Homo sapiens: one gene and its partners. The protein of the gene in region 1 interacts with the protein of each later gene in a pairwise test. Each region holds a gene or a part of one and is shown on either strand. Other genes may lie near its edges.

The links.
Region 2: the proteins of RAB9A (region 1) and HPS4 interact in a two-hybrid assay, tested with the Homo sapiens proteins (one study listed by IntAct).
Region 3: the proteins of RAB9A (region 1) and NISCH interact in binary tests that used the Homo sapiens proteins (3 or more experiments, as listed by UniProt).

The regions. Positions count from the first base shown.
Region 1 is NC_000023.11:13,708,488-13,711,080, forward strand, and holds the end of RAB9A (ras-related protein Rab-9A), read left to right. Parts: intron 1-233; 5' UTR 234-259; coding exon 260-865; 3' UTR 866-2,017; downstream 2,018-2,593. UniProt on the Homo sapiens protein: The small GTPases Rab are key regulators of intracellular membrane trafficking, from the formation of transport vesicles to their fusion with membranes.
Region 2 is NC_000022.11:26,470,186-26,473,839, reverse strand, and holds part of HPS4 (BLOC-3 complex member HPS4), read left to right. Parts: intron 1-900; coding exon 901-1,008; intron 1,009-1,421; coding exon 1,422-1,538; intron 1,539-2,451; exon of another isoform or gene 2,452-2,549; coding exon of another isoform or gene 2,550-2,627; intron 2,628-2,917; exon of another isoform or gene 2,918-3,026; coding exon 3,027-3,121; intron 3,122-3,654.
Region 3 is NC_000003.12:52,489,936-52,493,572, forward strand, and holds the end of NISCH (nischarin), read left to right. Parts: intron 1-139; coding exon 140-296; intron 297-769; coding exon 770-898; intron 899-1,416; coding exon 1,417-1,578; intron 1,579-1,936; coding exon 1,937-2,547; 3' UTR 2,548-3,133; downstream 3,134-3,637. UniProt on the Homo sapiens protein: Acts either as the functional imidazoline-1 receptor (I1R) candidate or as a membrane-associated mediator of the I1R signaling.

The DNA of each region.
Region 1 (2,593 bases):
CACAGTCAACTGTGACCTGAGAAAAGGGAAGAGTGAGCCCTTCCCAGCTGTTTCAGAGAATAATGGTAGAATAGTAGCCTGCACATGGCTAAGTGCTCAGTAAACAACAAGTCTTATTATTAGGTATTCCCTGGGGCCATATGTTTTATTTCAGCTAAATGCTGATATTCGTAGAATCATGTAGAAGAATGTGTAGGTATAAAGGAATGTAATGGTGCCTTTTTATTTTACAGGGTTCTTGAAGCTTTTGAGATTAACAATGGCAGGAAAATCATCACTTTTTAAAGTAATTCTCCTTGGAGATGGTGGAGTTGGGAAGAGTTCACTTATGAACAGATATGTAACTAATAAGTTTGATACCCAGCTCTTCCATACAATAGGTGTGGAATTTTTAAATAAAGATTTGGAAGTGGATGGACATTTTGTTACCATGCAGATTTGGGACACGGCAGGTCAGGAGCGATTCCGAAGCCTGAGGACACCATTTTACAGAGGTTCTGACTGCTGCCTGCTTACTTTTAGTGTCGATGATTCACAAAGCTTCCAGAACTTAAGTAACTGGAAGAAAGAATTCATATATTATGCAGATGTGAAAGAGCCTGAGAGCTTTCCTTTTGTGATTCTGGGTAACAAGATTGACATAAGCGAACGGCAGGTGTCTACAGAAGAAGCCCAAGCTTGGTGCAGGGACAACGGCGACTATCCTTATTTTGAAACAAGTGCAAAAGATGCCACAAATGTGGCAGCAGCCTTTGAGGAAGCGGTTCGAAGAGTTCTTGCTACCGAGGATAGGTCAGATCATTTGATTCAGACAGACACAGTCAATCTTCACCGAAAGCCCAAGCCTAGCTCATCTTGCTGTTGATTGTTAGATTGTTGATGCATTCTAACCAACTCACACATATACACAAAATCAACATGGGGATGGAGAAGAGAATTAGCGTTTGCAGCAGTGTATCATCTACTAATAAAATTAAACTAATGTTGCTGCTTCATTAGTTGGTGGGAGAAGGGACACATCCACTCTTGGAGGAATATATTTACTCAATAATGGCACCTTACATTTATAAATTGTAACAGTTGTCTAATAACGTTTCTTTAATTTAAATATGTAAGTTGCAGAGCTAATAAATGAAATGACCAAGACTTTAATTATAATAAAAATAAGAAACTTGACTATTCTAGAAGTTATACTTGGATTTTTTCCTGGGAAAATGGAGAACTACTTTTTATATGTGTATGTTTTTATGCAATTAGCATTGTATTCTTGGTTCAGGGAAATACTTTCCTAAAGCAATAATGTTAGATATTAAAGATTAAAATCTAATGTATTTGCAATGCATTGTTAATTTACTTCTTCATTCTCTTCAAAATGATTTAACCATTCCTGTTTTCATTCTACATACTAGAATTACTCTCACTAGTAATTACTCATCATTTGTGTGCCATTCATGCACCCCCACCCCCATAAATCATGTTCCACAGTCTCAGGCGGAGGGTGGGCCCCCAGTGGTACAAGAGTTGCTTCATACAGTCTGTAATACATCCAGCTAAATTCAAGTTGTCTATGAATGGAAAGCCTTTCCATAGATAGAGTTCAGTTTTAAGAAAAAGGCTAACTACTGAACTTGGAGAACAGACAAATGTGCATTTGATAACTGATGTAATAATTACAATGTACTGTGTGGAAGATACAAAATTACAATTCGATTAATGGACTAAATATTTTTGTTACTTTCTTGACCCTTGGGGAAAGTTTCTTAATTGAAGTTAAAACATTCCTTTATAACACAAGACACAAGCTGACTTTATCACTCTCAGAAGAAATACTAAGAAGGATTGTACTTTGTGAGAGGGTAAACGAAGACATCTTTATTCGGCAATGTATTTACTTAGTGTCTTCTCTATTACTGAACATTTAGTGATTTGCTCTCAAGGAGATTTTTTGTTAGAAAAAGACTTGTTGCAGTGATCAGACTTGATAAAGCAAATTGTGGTCTTTTGTGGATGAAGTTCATATGCTGTGTGGTTGGTGACTATCTGATTCTATGGAGGCTAACCAAAGCCTAGACTGAGTGTGGATGAGACCCTCAACTGGGGAGTGATGGGGATATCAAAGGACATGCTGGGTGAGAGGAGCTGACTGTCATGTAGGGAGTGAACCACTGCCCCCAGCAGAGATACAGTTCGGTTTTAAGAAAAAAGGCAAGGCCAGGCGCGGTGGCTCACGCCTGCAATCCCAACACTTTTGGAGGTCAAGAGGTCGACACCATCCTTGACAACATGGTGAACCCGGTCTCTACTAAAAATACAAAAATTAGTTGGGCATCGTGCCTGTAGTCCCAGCTTCTCGGAAGGCTGACGCAGGAGAATCACTTGAACCCGGAAGGTGGAGGTTGCAGTGAGCCGAGATCACATCACTGCACTCCAGCCTGGTGACAGTGAGACTCCACCTCAAAAAAAAAAAAAAAAAAAAAAAAAGCAAACTACTGAACTGGAGAACAGACAAACCTGCATTTGTTAACTGATGTAACAATTACAATGTGCTGTGTGGAAGATACAAAATTACAATTCATTAATGGACTAAATGTTT
Region 2 (3,654 bases), on another chromosome or scaffold:
AGAGGTAGAATTACTACATCAAGTAATAGGAACTTTTTCAGGCTCTTTAAACATATGACCAGATAACTTTCTAACTCAGCAAGTACTTTTTTTTTTTTGAGACGGTGTCTCGCTCTGTTGCCAGGCTGGAGTGCAGTAGCGCAATCTCGGCTCGCTGCAACCTCTGCCTCCCAGGTTCAAGCGATTCCCCTGCCTCAGCCTCCTGAGTAGCTGGGACTACAGGCACACACCACCACGCCCAGTATTTTTAGTAGAGACGGGGTTTCACCATGTTGGTCAGGATGGTCTCGATCTCTTGACCTCGTGATCCACTCAAAGTGCTGGGATTACAGGCATGAGCCACCGTGCCCGGCCAAGTATTTATCTTCTGTGGAACTAACCACTACGCTCAGCATTTTGGAGATCTAGGACTGGGAAGATTGCGGTCAGTTCTTGCTCTTAAAGCACTCTATCCAGCTGGAGAAACATGATGGCCATTCATGAAGGAGTTTGAGTCCTGTCCATTGTTTGTAATGGAATCCAGATTAAACATCTACTGTCCAAATAACAGTCCTAACAATGCAAGGGTCAGAAAAAAGGTCAGCATTATTGGCTCGAGGTAATAGAACAGACCTCATGGAGATACTGAAATTGGTGGTGGGCACTGAAGGTTGTAAGTTCTGGGGAAATGAACAATAAGGAAAAGGACATTTGAGATTGGAAAACATGAATTGAGGTACAGAACTTACTTGTCCATGGAGATTAACTTGGCCAGAATGAAGGGTGTGGACTCAGGGACAATAGAAGATCAATTTCGATGGGCCAGTGAAGTCAGGTAATTGAGAGCCCTGGATGCCAGGATTCTGGGCTTGGACTCAAAGAGAAGGAAGATGCTTGTCTTCCTGGTTTCTCTCTTTACAGGTGCTGGGCTGTGCTGTGGAGCTCCCTGATGTCAGCTGCAAGCGGTTTCTGGATCAGCTAGTTGGATTCTTTAATTTTTACAATGGACCTGTTTCCCTAGCTTATGAGGTACAAGTATGGGGTTGAGGAGTCTTACATTGGGCCTCTTTATAAAAACCGGTATTGCCAGAATGCAGCACTTACTCTGGGGTCTTGTATACTTCATATAAACACATTGTGTCTGGGGACAAGGTCAGGAGCTCTTGGAGGCCCCTCATATGCCTTTGGGCCTAGTGGCATAGGTCACATTTATTCCAAATGTTTATCCCCATCTCCTCCCTGGGATGTTTAGAAAGCGCAGGCCCTGCTTGCCACCCCCACGCGGCAGGCGCCGTGGATCTGTGATGGGATAGGTTTAAAACAGGTCCTCCCTTCCGGTCAGTTTCCTGTGTGAGGAACAATTTTTGAGGTAGTTGGGACTCTGGCCAAAGAATCTGTCCCTCAAAATCTCAGATATTGACCTGAGGCTCTTTCTGTTTTAGAACTGTTCTCAGGAAGAACTGAGCACGGAGTGGGACACCTTCATCGAGCAAATTCTGAAAAACACCAGTGATCTGCATAAGATTTTCAATTCCCTCTGGAACTTGGACCAAACTAAAGTAACATTTTCATCCTCCTTATTCATTTTATATGTAAGACTAGGGCTTCTGGATACTTTTTTAATATTCCTGAAGTGAACTATATCTGGAAAAGTGAGTAGAATGTCACTTCTCAGGCAGGGCCATGACACGGCAGGTCACCTCTCAGCCTCATTTCCCTTATCCAAAGAATGGTGTCAGCATACCTGCCTTCTTGAACTGTTTTGATGATCAAGTGAAGCAGTACCTCAAATGACACCAAGTAAATGCTCAGTAAAGGGAATTAGTATTTTGTTCATGCCTCAGAAGTGTTGAACTCAGTAATCTGAAGGCCGCCTCTCTTGATATTCATATCATATGATCTAGTTATTCTCAGCATCAAAAATGCCCAGCATGAACATTTCAAAAACAAGGTTGCTGTCTTTGAGAGAGAATGGTTGGGAACTGTTTTTGTATCTCTGAGCCGCTCCGTTTGCGGTTGGCACTCAGTGAAACCTAGGCTGCTTGTGTGGCTGGCCTGACCACCTGTGCTGCCCCATTAAGAGCCAGCTACCTGAGCCCTGACTCACAGCCCTCTCCTGTGTCTCACTGCGATAGTAAATAATGTCCCTGTAGCAGGGGTGTAGCACTGTGGCTCAGCCTTCACAGAGCATGACTCCACCAGACATGGGGAAGGGTTTTCCCTGCTCCAGTCTGGAAAACTTCCTGTAGCTGGCCCCAGAGCTTTATAGAATGGCTGGCTGGGATGGCACAGTCTTGAGGCTATGAAGAATAAACTTCTTAATGTGTCAGCAGCTCCGGAGGCTCCATTAACACTAGTTCTAACAGCTGGTGGATACTTGCTGGTTCTAGCTGGCAGGTGGAAGTCTGAGGAGGCTGCTGGTTATTGCTGGCTCTTCCTGACCAGGTCCAGATGCTTTTCTTGTATTTTTAGGGACTTCTAGGCCCCTGACTCCATACAAGGAATGTGGAACTGAGGCATATTTCCCCGAGTGAAAGAGCATGATGTTTTCATTTTATGTGATGGAATAGAGTCATGGAACCTGGTCAGACATCAAGCCACCTGTATCACCATGGGGATTGTGCTTCAGAAGGAAAGTGGAGGATAGGGTAGGTGGGTTTCACCTGGTACCATGACATGTATTTATAGGATACACCCTCCTCTTCTGCTGCCGTGAGGTCTTAGCATTGTCAGGGTAGACAGTCGGTCTCCCAGGCCATCTACTTTGACCCCTTTGAATAGCCATATGCCATATTTGCTGCACCTTCTAGCTTCTGGACAGGCCTCCTTGTTCTAAGAATTTGGCATTTAGTGGTGTCAGCAGTTCTGAGTATAGAGAGGTAGAATAGTCCCAAGCCATGGCACAGCTTTCACTGTGTGACACATTCTCCTTTTCCAGGCTTTGAGCTACACCCTGTCCAGCTGTTCTGTACAACCCTTTCCCCTTTTCTCCCTTCCTGATTGTGAGCATGCTGATGGGTGGGCATGATGCCTCTTGCCCTGCACAGGTGGAGCCCCTGTTGTTGCTGAAGGCAGCCCGCATTCTGCAGACCTGCCAGCGCTCGCCTCACATTCTCGCTGGCTGCATCCTCTATAAAGGACTGTGAGTAACTCCAGACCCCTTTCTTCCAGCCCCATTCCCTTGCTGCACAACTGACCATCAGCCACCTCCAGATCACAGTGGGGAGCCCAGTCTCTGGCCAGTTCCAAGTGGGCTGGTTCGGCAAATATCAGGTAGTTTAGATTTGACTCAGTTTAGAAAGACAGGTGTGTACCTGTCTTTGAGCAAAGCTGAGAAATTGGAAATAGTTGTGTTCAGAAAAGAGTTAAGAATGTCCCTATAATTCTCAGTATGGGGCATGCTGGAATAGTTGTCAGTCTGCAAAATGCTAATGCAGAGTCCCGAGCGTTGCCAGCAGCCAGCACTGTAGTCAAGAGGCATGGAAGGGGCCTGCTGTGACCCTCCTCCTGCTGCCCAGAGACCCTGGTGTGCTTGCCTCAGCTCAGCTCTGCAAAGCAGCCTTACAGGCCCTTATCCAGCTGCCTTCAAGCCTCTTGGCTGGGCCAGTGTCTTGGTTGGCCTCTGAGAATTCACTTCACTTCTTCATGTAGTTGGAGGGCTTCTTGGTGAATCTG
Region 3 (3,637 bases), on another chromosome or scaffold:
CCTCTCTGCCTTGAAGCATACGGATTCATTGGTGAGCCAAGAGGGGCTTCCCATGTCTCCTTGTGGAAGCTGTGGGCATGTCCCTGGTATGTGCAGGTTGCTAGGGTGGTGGAGCTGACAGGAGGCCCCCCGTCTTCAGGTTGAAAACGAGGAGCTGAGGCACCTCATGTGGTCCTCGGTGGTGTTCTACCAGACCCCAGGGCTGGAGGTGACTGCCTGCGTGCTGCTCTCCACCAAGGCTGTGTACTTTGTGCTCCACGACGGCCTCCGCCGCTACTTCTCAGAGCCACTGCAGGGTAGGCACAGGGCCTGCTGGGGCTCAGGAGCTTGGAGTGTGTGGTTGGGGCAGGCCTGGGGGGTCATTCTCTGGAGCCAGCTGTGTGGCTTCAGGCAGCAGTCAGCGACTTGGCTGCAGTGGGCTGAGAGTTCCTTGTCTGAGGAAGGGAGCTGTCATGAGGGAGGGGTCCATGGCCAGATGTGAACGCAGAATGCACTGAGCCAGGGCCTGGTGACTGCTTGGGAACAGCCAGTGATGAGAAGGGGTTAGGCAGCCTTTGCCCCTGGGGCTGCACAGGAAGCCCTAGCCAGCGACCTGGTGACTCCCCTGAGCTGGAAGAGGCTCCGACTCCAGAGGGCATTGCCTATGGGGCTTTGCACGGGTGGAAGCCAGGCCAGCCAAGAGGACCTGTTCCTGCTGGATGTGCTGCACACCTAGGAACCTTGTGCTTGCCTGCCACCGCCTCCCTCTGTCCCTTTCTCCATCACACAGATTTCTGGCATCAGAAAAACACCGACTACAACAACAGCCCTTTCCACATCTCCCAGTGCTTCGTGCTAAAGCTTAGTGACCTGCAGTCAGTCAATGTGGGGCTTTTCGACCAGCATTTCCGGCTGACGGGTGGGTGACCCTCTGTGCTTTGTCCTATTTCGGGTGAAGGCCAGCATCACCAGTGGGCTTCCACCTTCCGTACGTGGGTGGGTTATCATAGACAGTTATCTCTGTGCTCAAGAGCCACTTCTTAACCGGGGTGGGAGGAAGCAGCTTCAGGAACTGCTGAGAGAGCAGAACTCACGCTCCAGGGCTCAGAGCAGGAGGTAGGGTGTGCGGCAAGCGCTGGCCCGGACAGAAGCAGAGTGGGCCCTGGTCTCGGGCAGGATGTTTCTGACTCACATTTCCTGAGGAGAGAAAGCTAAGCTCTTTGCCTAATGTCTCTGTCTCCCCTTCCAGAAAAATGCCTCAGCTCTTCCGGCCTGAAGGAATGGCCTCCTCCCGGGCCCCATGATTCTTTCCTGTGTGGGCCCTCCTGGCCCTGGCCTCTGGGCTGAGGCTTGCTAGGGACTCGGGGTGGCTCTAAGGGGCAGGGATAGGGCTGGGGAGCGCCGGCCTGTGGCCCTGACCAGCCCCTTCTCGTGCAGGTTCCACCCCGATGCAGGTGGTCACGTGCTTGACGCGGGACAGCTACCTGACGCACTGCTTCCTCCAGCACCTCATGGTCGTGCTGTCCTCTCTGGAACGCACGCCCTCGCCGGAGCCTGTTGACAAGGACTTCTACTCCGAGTTTGGGAACAAGACCACAGGTACCCCTGTCTAGCTCAGGCTGCAGACAGGCTGCCTGGACAGACGTCATGGGCCCCAGGGTGGCTCTCTGTGCCCCAGAACCCTCTCTGCCTCTATGTCTCTCTTTTCTCACTTAGCTGGCCAGGGTTTTATGTGGGGCTTTTCGATGGCAGAGTCTCCACTCCAGCAGTCCCTCAACCATCTGGCAGACACATCTCCAGTGCCTGCTTTGGGCTCCTGGCCTGTGGGCCCCACACTTGGAGCATCCTCTCCTGCCTGTCTCATGCCGGGGTCTCTCGGTTGGCTTGGGGCCCTTGGTGCTCCCAGCCCCACCAGGGGCCGGTTCCAGGCTATAGCCCAGGTGGCATCTCTCTGCAGGGAAGATGGAGAACTACGAGCTGATCCACTCTAGTCGCGTCAAGTTTACCTACCCCAGTGAGGAGGAGATTGGGGACCTGACGTTCACTGTGGCCCAAAAGATGGCTGAGCCAGAGAAGGCCCCAGCCCTCAGCATCCTGCTGTACGTGCAGGCCTTCCAGGTGGGCATGCCACCCCCTGGGTGCTGCAGGGGCCCCCTGCGCCCCAAGACACTCCTGCTCACCAGCTCCGAGATCTTCCTCCTGGATGAGGACTGTGTCCACTACCCACTGCCCGAGTTTGCCAAAGAGCCGCCGCAGAGAGACAGGTACCGGCTGGACGATGGCCGCCGCGTCCGGGACCTGGACCGAGTGCTCATGGGCTACCAGACCTACCCGCAGGCCCTCACCCTCGTCTTCGATGACGTGCAAGGTCATGACCTCATGGGCAGTGTCACCCTGGACCACTTTGGGGAGGTGCCAGGTGGCCCGGCTAGAGCCAGCCAGGGCCGTGAAGTCCAGTGGCAGGTGTTTGTCCCCAGTGCTGAGAGCAGAGAGAAGCTCATCTCGCTGTTGGCTCGCCAGTGGGAGGCCCTGTGTGGCCGTGAGCTGCCTGTCGAGCTCACCGGCTAGCCCAGGCCACAGCCAGCCTGTCGTGTCCAGCCTGACGCCTACTGGGGCAGGGCAGCAGGCTTTTGTGTTCTCTAAAAATGTTTTATCCTCCCTTTGGTACCTTAATTTGACTGTCCTCGCAGAGAATGTGAACATGTGTGTGTGTTGTGTTAATTCTTTCTCATGTTGGGAGTGAGAATGCCGGGCCCCTCAGGGCTGTCGGTGTGCTGTCAGCCTCCCACAGGTGGTACAGCCGTGCACACCAGTGTCGTGTCTGCTGTTGTGGGACCGTTGTTAACACGTGACACTGTGGGTCTGACTTTCTCTTCTACACGTCCTTTCCTGAAGTGTCGAGTCCAGTCCTTTGTTGCTGTTGCTGTTGCTGTTGCTGTTGCTGTTGCTGTTGGCATCTTGCTGCTAATCCTGAGGCTGGTAGCAGAATGCACATTGGAAGCTCCCACCCCATATTGTTCTTCAAAGTGGAGGTCTCCCCTGATCCAGACAAGTGGGAGAGCCCGTGGGGGCAGGGGACCTGGAGCTGCCAGCACCAAGCGTGATTCCTGCTGCCTGTATTCTCTATTCCAATAAAGCAGAGTTTGACACCGTCTGCATCTTCTAAACCAAGGGTCACTGGGATCCCAGCAGGGCTTCCGTCCAGGGCGTGGTCACATGGGGGAGGGAGGGTGCCCTGGAGACAGGAGGGTGAGGGGTTGGGGGAAAGGAAGGAGCAGCCCTCCAGGAGCCAGATGCTTCTTGGAACATGGGAGGCATGACAGGGCCATGGCCTCTCTGGACAGTGCCATGCTGGGCTGTGGCTAAACCATGAGCGCAGGGCAAACAAGAAACTCCTCAGGGCACCCCTGACACACCAGCCGCTGCCCCTCTGCCTGGGTGCGGGGCATGCCACCCTCTTCAGGCTGTCCTGCAGGTCTTATGTGTCAGTCACCCCTGGGCCCAACCCCACCTGTTTCACAACCCCTGTTGAGAGTGGGGGAGGGGCGAGGAGGACAGAGAGATCCCAGAGTCTGAGGTGGCTGGTGGGGGCCGGGGCATCTCACCAAGGTGGCCCTTGAATGGCAGCAGGGGAGGTCTGTGGGGAGGTGGACCCAGG